2 linked regions of the Homo sapiens genome follow. The protein of the gene in region 2 interacts with the protein of the main gene of each other region in a pairwise test. Each region holds a gene or a part of one and is shown on either strand. Other genes may lie near its edges.

Region 1 (3,658 bases), on a different chromosome or scaffold from region 2:
GGACTTGGAAGCTAATATTCAAGCTCTGAACTTGAGAGGAATCTCAGCCAATACCCATAGCAGCTTTTGGCTGTCCCATAATTCTAGGTTTGAACACAATAAAGACTCGGCGGTATGACAGTTTCTTAGTCCCTTGATTCTATGCCTTAGAAATAAAAAAAATGTAAAATTGGAAGGTGCAAACAACTGAGATAAAGGGGCAGAGTGGAAAGAAGTGGGAGTGTCATAAACCAAAGCTGCAGGTAATGCCATGGCATTGTCTTCCTGATCTGCCTCCTGTTAACCCTACTGCTCCTTCCCTTCCCTTCAATAGTCACGGGCTGTCATTTTCCTGCTCTTTCATCTCTCATGCTAATTACTGAGACACTGCGACATGCATCCTGATTTATCCTCCTTGTTAACATGCTCAGGCCTGTGGAGGGGGTTGGAGGAACCTCACATGCATGAACAGGGAAAGTTGTAAACAGCTTAAGATAATTTAAAATGTTACCTTTTGGATAGGTTGGTTTAAGCCAGAAAATAGGAAGGTCACCGCAGAGTTCTAACACCTTAGAACTCAAGAAGCTGTTGTCCTTCACAGGCTGATCTACAGCCACCCAGATAAGAGAATTTTCTTCATATTTGACTGGCATGATCTTGCCTTCCTGAAAGTAAAAACGATTGCATTTGAGCAAAGAGGACAGTGAAACAAATTGTATTAAGAGTCATGTGTTGCTAAAAGGTTATTTTGCCTTATAAAAAATTAATGAGAATTCCGAGCATGCGTGTGTACATGTGTGCACTTTAAGGTTCTAATCTCTTCTCTTTGTAGCTCTTTTCACAATATTCAGCACGCCTCCTCCTGTTGCCCTGCCTCTGGATAGCTGTACCATGTGAATATAAGTGCCCTGAGTTGAAGTGAAAATTACTTGATACCAACTTTGAGATTTAGGTTAATCTGATGTTTTTGATCAAAGATGTTTTTGAGGAAAAGCAATTGAACGAACCCTGGAATCCTACAAAGGATAGAGGAACCCTTCATTTGAAGTGAAAATCTTGTGGGGTTTTGTTCTGCAGCTTCTGAACAACAATGGAAAAAGCAAGTGATTGGTTCTTTAATGTCTTCAGTTCAAAGTATTATTTAACATAAACCATTTCTCCACTTCCCAGCTATAACAACACATATTTCAGATGTTCCTCACATCAAGCACACCACTGAGATTTCAAAGTTAAACCCTGGATTTTCTTCCACAGTGAGATGCTGAGAATGGTTTGATAACCCAGGAGACAAATTTATCCTGCCAGGTTGTTCCTTTCGTGTACTTATTAGTCTGCAATAGCTTGGAGAAATTAAAATGTTTTCTCCTAATTTTTAGCTAAAAGCAGTACTTCATTTATGCTTTCTCCCTCAGGCTTATGGCTGCATTAAAACAACTTAAAGTTATTGGAGGAAGCTAACAGTCAGGTAATCCAGTTATTTACCTTAAATTAAATGGCTCCATCCAGGAAATGAATGCTCTTTGAGTACTGTAGCTTTTTAAAGTTATACAAAACTGATGAAAAATTTATGAAAGCAAGTGGTACATAAATCTACCCCATCTTAGTCTAAAGTGTGTGGGGAAGAGTGGGGTGATTGGGATAATGCATATAGATGCATCCTCCATGCTAAGAATGTTAAATAAATCTTGAGGCATGTACTTTTGGTTGCCTACCCAATCTCCTTCCTCCCCCACCTGCCTTGTAACATAGTCCTTCTTTTATTGGAAGCAGCAATGAGCCCAGCCCCAGGAGAGACACTTGCTTTCTCTAGTTCTCCTGCAGTCCAGGGTGCCCGGGTGACCCAGTGGTAGCCAGTGAGATCCAGGCCAAAGTATGCTGAGGGCTTGGGAGGCCTTCTGCTTTTCCTGATTAAAGGGAAGTCGTGGTTGGCATTGCTCAATGTCTTTCTTCCTGACATTTTTACTTGAATGCCAACTAAGGAAGTCAGGAAGAGGTTGAGCAGTGGCAACCATGATTGGAGCTGAAAGGCAAGATTTTAAAAAATCACAGAAATGCTGGCCACCGAGCCAATGCCTGCAGCCACCTGCCTCCACATTGCTTACTGTGGAGAAAAACAGATCCCGATTTGTGTAAGTTACTCTAAGGGTAGTTTTCTGTTACTGACAGCCAAACATATTCCTAATTCACACAAATGTATTGTCTGAATTTGTTTTTGTCCACTAGAGGATCCATCATGCATGACATAAACAACTAAAACACAGGACAAATAATCTACCTCTATGGCCTAAGAATCAGATGCAGACAAAGATTTAAATATAAAAGCATTCACCATCACGGCGAATTTATTTACCATGGTAAATAATGGTATTTAAAAATAGTTATTTTTAATTATTATTTGAAATAATGAAAAATTGAAGATACCTGAAGTGTTTAAGAATAAAAGACTTTTAAAATTATAATCATATGATAAAGCATATGTCCATTATAATCTACATTTTAGAAGAACTAAAGTTATGACAATAATAAGCATGTACAACAGGATAATTTCCCTTATAGAAAGACTATCACACACACACACACACGGAGAAAATTCACCAAAACATTAGCATTAGCTTTTTGTGGATTATGCAATTGTAGGTAATTTTATTATCTATACTTTTTTTCCCTAAGATGTCCCAGTATTGAACCATTTGTACATCCCTGAAATAAACCTTACCTTGTCATGACATGTTACTTATTCAACATATGGCTATACTCCTTTTACTAATATTTTAGTCAAGATTCTTACACCTATTTTCTTTTTTTATTTTTAATTTTTGTGGATCTATAGTAGGTATATACTTATGGGTTACCTAAGATATTTTGATACCAGCATGCAATGCATAATTACCACATCAGGGTAATTACTGCAAGCATTTATTCTTTGTTTCAAACAATCCAGTTATACTGTTAGTTTTTTTAAAAATGTATAATTGTTTTTTACTACAGTCTCCCTGCTGTGCTAGCAAATACTAGGTCTTATTTAGTTTTTCTATTTTTTATTCTTTATAACTAATTTTTGTACCCATTACCATCCTCCCTTCCCCCAAACCGTTCCAGCCTCTGGTAATCATCCTTCTATTCTCTATCTCCATGAGTTCAACTGTTTTAATTTTTTTAAATTATACTTTAAATTCTGGGATACATGTGCAGAATGTGCAGGTTTGTTACATAGGTATACACATGCCATGGTGGTTTGCTGCATGCATCAACTCGTCATCTACATTAGATATTTCTCTTAATGCTATTCTTCCCCTAGCACTCCCACTCCCTGACAGGCCCCGGTGTGTGATGTTCCCCTCCCTGTGTCCATGTGTTCTCATTGTTCAGCTCCTACTTGTGAGTGAGAACATGCAGTGTCTGGTTTTCTGTTCCTGTGTTACTTTGCTGAGAATGATGGTTTCCAGCTTCATCCGTGTCCCTGCAAAGGACATGAACTCATCATTTTTATGGCTGCATAGTATTCTATGGTGTACATGTGCCACATTTTCTTTATCCAGTCTATCATTGATGGGCATTTGGGTTGGTTCCAAGTCTTTGCTATTGTGAATAGTGCTGCAATAAGCATACATATGCATGTGTCTTTATAGTAGAATGATTTATAATCCTTTAGGTATATACCCAGTGATGGGATTGCTGG
Region 2 (3,658 bases):
CAGGAATCTTCCCTCTGGCTTTGCACTACAGTAAAGATATTTACTTATTTTTTTAACAAAGTTTTATTTTAGGCTCAGGAGAATACATGTGCATGTTTCTTCTATAGGTAAACTCGTGTCATGGCGGTTTGTTGTACAGATTATTTTGTCACCCAGGTACTAAGCCTAGTACCCAATAGTTACTTTTTTTCCTGCTCCTCTCCCTCTTCCCACCCTCCGCCCTTAAGTAGGCCCCAGTGTCTGTTCCTCTCTTCGTGTCCATGTGTTCTCATCATTTAGCTCCCACTTGTAAGTGAGAACATGTGGTATTTGGTCATAAAATATATTTATAAGCATCATTTTCTGCTAAAATCCAGACAAAGAATCCAAAATTGAAGCTACTTACTCTATAGCTCTATGCCAATTATTCTAGCAAAATTCATATTCTAATGTCAAGAACTCCTTAGGCAATATATAAGATGGAATTACCCTTTCGGTGAGCAGGTGAGGCAATTCCTCTTCAGCAACACACTCCTCTGGAATCTTCAGCATGATGAAGAATGTTTTGTTTGATGATAATTCAAGTATTTCATTTTCATCTTCATCAACATAAGTTACTAAAGAAAGTAGGGGAGGTGGAAATGAAAAACAAAAGTAAACACCTGCATATAATAATAAACTTATTTATTCCATTGACTGCCATACTTAAACATAACTATGAGCATCAAGGGTAAAGGCTGAACACAGCAAGCAAGTGTAAGCAGAAATGCTTTCTCCACTCAGCAAAATTGAGTAAAATACAGGGGTTTGCCTCTATCAAAATAAAAAGTTTGTTTTATGGCAAAGGGGTCTCAGATTCCACTGAATACAGACTGGGGAAAGGGCCCAAGGGAGTAGGAAGAATATGAACTTCCTTATTAGACTAAACCTGCAGCTTAGCTAGGTACACAGGTGTCAAGGCAGGTACTGGGAGACGGTGGGGGTGGCTAAACTACACTCAGAGCCCCAGGGTGTGCAGGAATTGTTCAGGTCAATGAATTAGCATGTATTAGGGTCAAGGTATATTTATAGACTCAGATTCCGAAATCATTTACATTTTATAAATGGGAAAACAGACCCAGAGGGTTGACGAGTTTGCCTAAAACAATGAGTGATGAAGGACAGGAAGTGGGAGCAAGTAACTGCATTGACTCACCTCCCAATTCTGTGCTGGCAAAGACCACCATGAAGAAGTGACATCATCGACTCAAACAACAGAGGTGACTAGAAAATGAGCATGCGAGTCCATGTCTTGAAGTCTCCCCAGGAAGACAGAGGATGAGCATGAAGTCATCACTCTAGACTATGTCTCACAGGACAGGTATGTTGACATGCTCTGCTTGCAGAAGGGAAGCTAAACTATATTCAGAGCCCCAGGGTGTGCAGGAATTACATTCCTGGGACAATTAGTTATGTATTGCTGCTTGTGTTTAATGACTGCCATCTAATTGATTTTTAAGTAGTTGGAACTAAAGGAAAATCACACAAAGTGAGGAGCCAGGCGCCAGAAGCTAGCACTACTGTGCTAATTATGCTCCCCTGGCTCCACAACAGCCTCACCAGCTGGTCCCACACAGGAGACTACCTCTCTGGCCCTGAGAAAGGCGTAGGTGGGAGGAACCAGGTGCTTATATTGCCATAGACTTTAAGACCATAGTGGAATAAATTCAGTGTTTGAGATGGAAGGACAGGTAAAAAGGAGGAAGATTCCTGGTATTCCGGTTACTTATTCTGTGATGACATCTGGAAATACGAGGCATTACGAGCAAGGAATGTGCAGAAAAGAGTTAATATAGCAGGCCTGAGATTGCTAGCATAAGAAAGGCCTCCTCAAAATTGGTCCTGGCTGGTGTCTGAGAACCTGGATTTTCCCCTGATGAGAGGGGCTCACTGTGCCTCAACTGTTTGTACAATGTGGCTAACATCTCCTTTCCTTCTGGGAGTCTGGATTTTTAGTGCATAGTAGGCAGAGGCTACGTATATGACCAAGCCCCAGTGAAAACCCCGGGTACTGAATCTCCAATAAGCTTCCCTAGTAGATGAGATCTCACATGTGTTGTCACAGCCTATCGCTGGAGGAATTAAACAAGTCTGGTGCAACTCCACTGAGAGAGGACACTTGAAAGCTTGCTCCTGGTTTTCTCTGGATTTTGCTGTAATTAATCATTTGATGTAATGTATCCTTTTGCTGTAATAGATCATAGTGATCAGTAGGACTGCATGCTGAGTCCTGTGTATCCTCCTAGCAAATTGTTGAATCTAGGAGTAATCTTGGGGACCCCCAAACGTAGGGAATTATCCCTGCGTCCTTAATTGTTATAAGTCATGACATTATGTTGTATGATTTAAAAAAAAAGTTACGCCTTCATAGCAAAAAATTTTGCAAAGTGCAGGAAATTGTAACAAAGCAAAGAAAAAAATACGAATAATCTTGCAATCAAGAGGGTTTTTTCCTCCTATACTTGATATTATATATTTAAGGTCCTAACAAATAGGTAATTTATATCCTGCTTTTTGTTGTTTGCTGCCATTATTGCTTACTTATCCTGATTGTTCTGTTGTAAACATATCAAAAGCCATTTCCCATGTGCTTAAAATTCCTTGCAAAGATTATTTCAATGGCTTCATAATGTTCATAATAGGCTCACCTATTTTCTTAAATATGACATTTATCATTTTTAGCTTTCTACTTCTATAAATAATATTTCAATGGGTATCTTTGAGCTCTATACCCACCATGTAGATTTCCATAATAGATATCAATGCCTCAGAAAACAATAGGGGATGCCAAGAGGATAGATACAAGGTTCAAATAACTGCTAAACTCAAGGACACTGAGAAGAGATGCCAAGTGTGAAAACAGGCCTCCCATAATAGCTCTGACACATATTTAATGTGTATCATTCAAATCATGAATCTGTACCAAGACCTATCTAAATAGTTGTGTGTGTCAAAATAATAACAATAGTAACAACGACAGGCTTACTCAGTCAGGAGAGTTTTTATGTCACTAATGAGATAATCTGGGCTATACTTATTCGTGTAGAAAAAACATATTTTTAAAAATCACAAAAACATGTGTTGTATGTTGAAGGAACATGAAAACAGTTCTTTGGCTAGAATATAAGAAATTAAGCTAGAGAGAGAGCCCTTAAACGCCAGATACCTTCAAGGGGTAATGGAGTGTTGTTAAACATCGCCCACGAAGAAAGTAGAGGCTGGTGTTTAATGGAGGTTAATCGGGTGGTCATGGATGGGATAAATGAAACGAGGAGAGATGAGGCAGAGAGGCCAACAGGCACAAGTTTGGAACAGACTGATTTGACTGACAGCAGAAGGAACAAAAAGAAAAAATTAATGAGAAAGCCCAGGATAGTAGAAACAGAGCTGGCTTTAAAGGCAGCCAGACTCAGTCTGAACTCCTGTTGGCTATTTGTTAGCCAGGTGACCTTGAGCAAGTCACTTAAATCTCTGAAGCTACTTCTCCAACAGAAATATCAACACCTACAATGTAGGTGATAGTAAAGATGAAAACCAACATGCATAAAGTATCCTGCATGGTGCCTTGTAGTAAGTGGGAAAGTTGCTATCAAGACACTACCAAGGAATAACTGGTAAGATTTGGCCATTATCTAGATAT

Evidence for each region.
Region 1: the proteins of C3orf52 (region 2) and CNMD interact in binary tests that used the Homo sapiens proteins (3 or more experiments, as listed by UniProt).

Annotation. Positions count from the first base shown.
Region 1 is NC_000013.11:52,712,226-52,715,883, forward strand, and holds part of CNMD (leukocyte cell-derived chemotaxin 1 isoform 1 precursor), read right to left. Parts: intron 645-3,658; coding exon 491-644; intron 1-490. UniProt on the Homo sapiens protein: Bifunctional growth regulator that stimulates the growth of cultured chondrocytes in the presence of basic fibroblast growth factor (FGF) but inhibits the growth of cultured vascular endothelial cells.
Region 2 is NC_000003.12:112,099,776-112,103,433, reverse strand, and holds part of C3orf52 (TPA-induced transmembrane protein), read right to left. Parts: intron 597-3,658; coding exon 469-596; intron 1-468. UniProt on the Homo sapiens protein: Has a role in LIPH-mediated synthesis of 2-acyl lysophosphatidic acid (LPA). LPA is a bioactive lipid mediator involved in different biological processes, and necessary to promote hair formation and growth.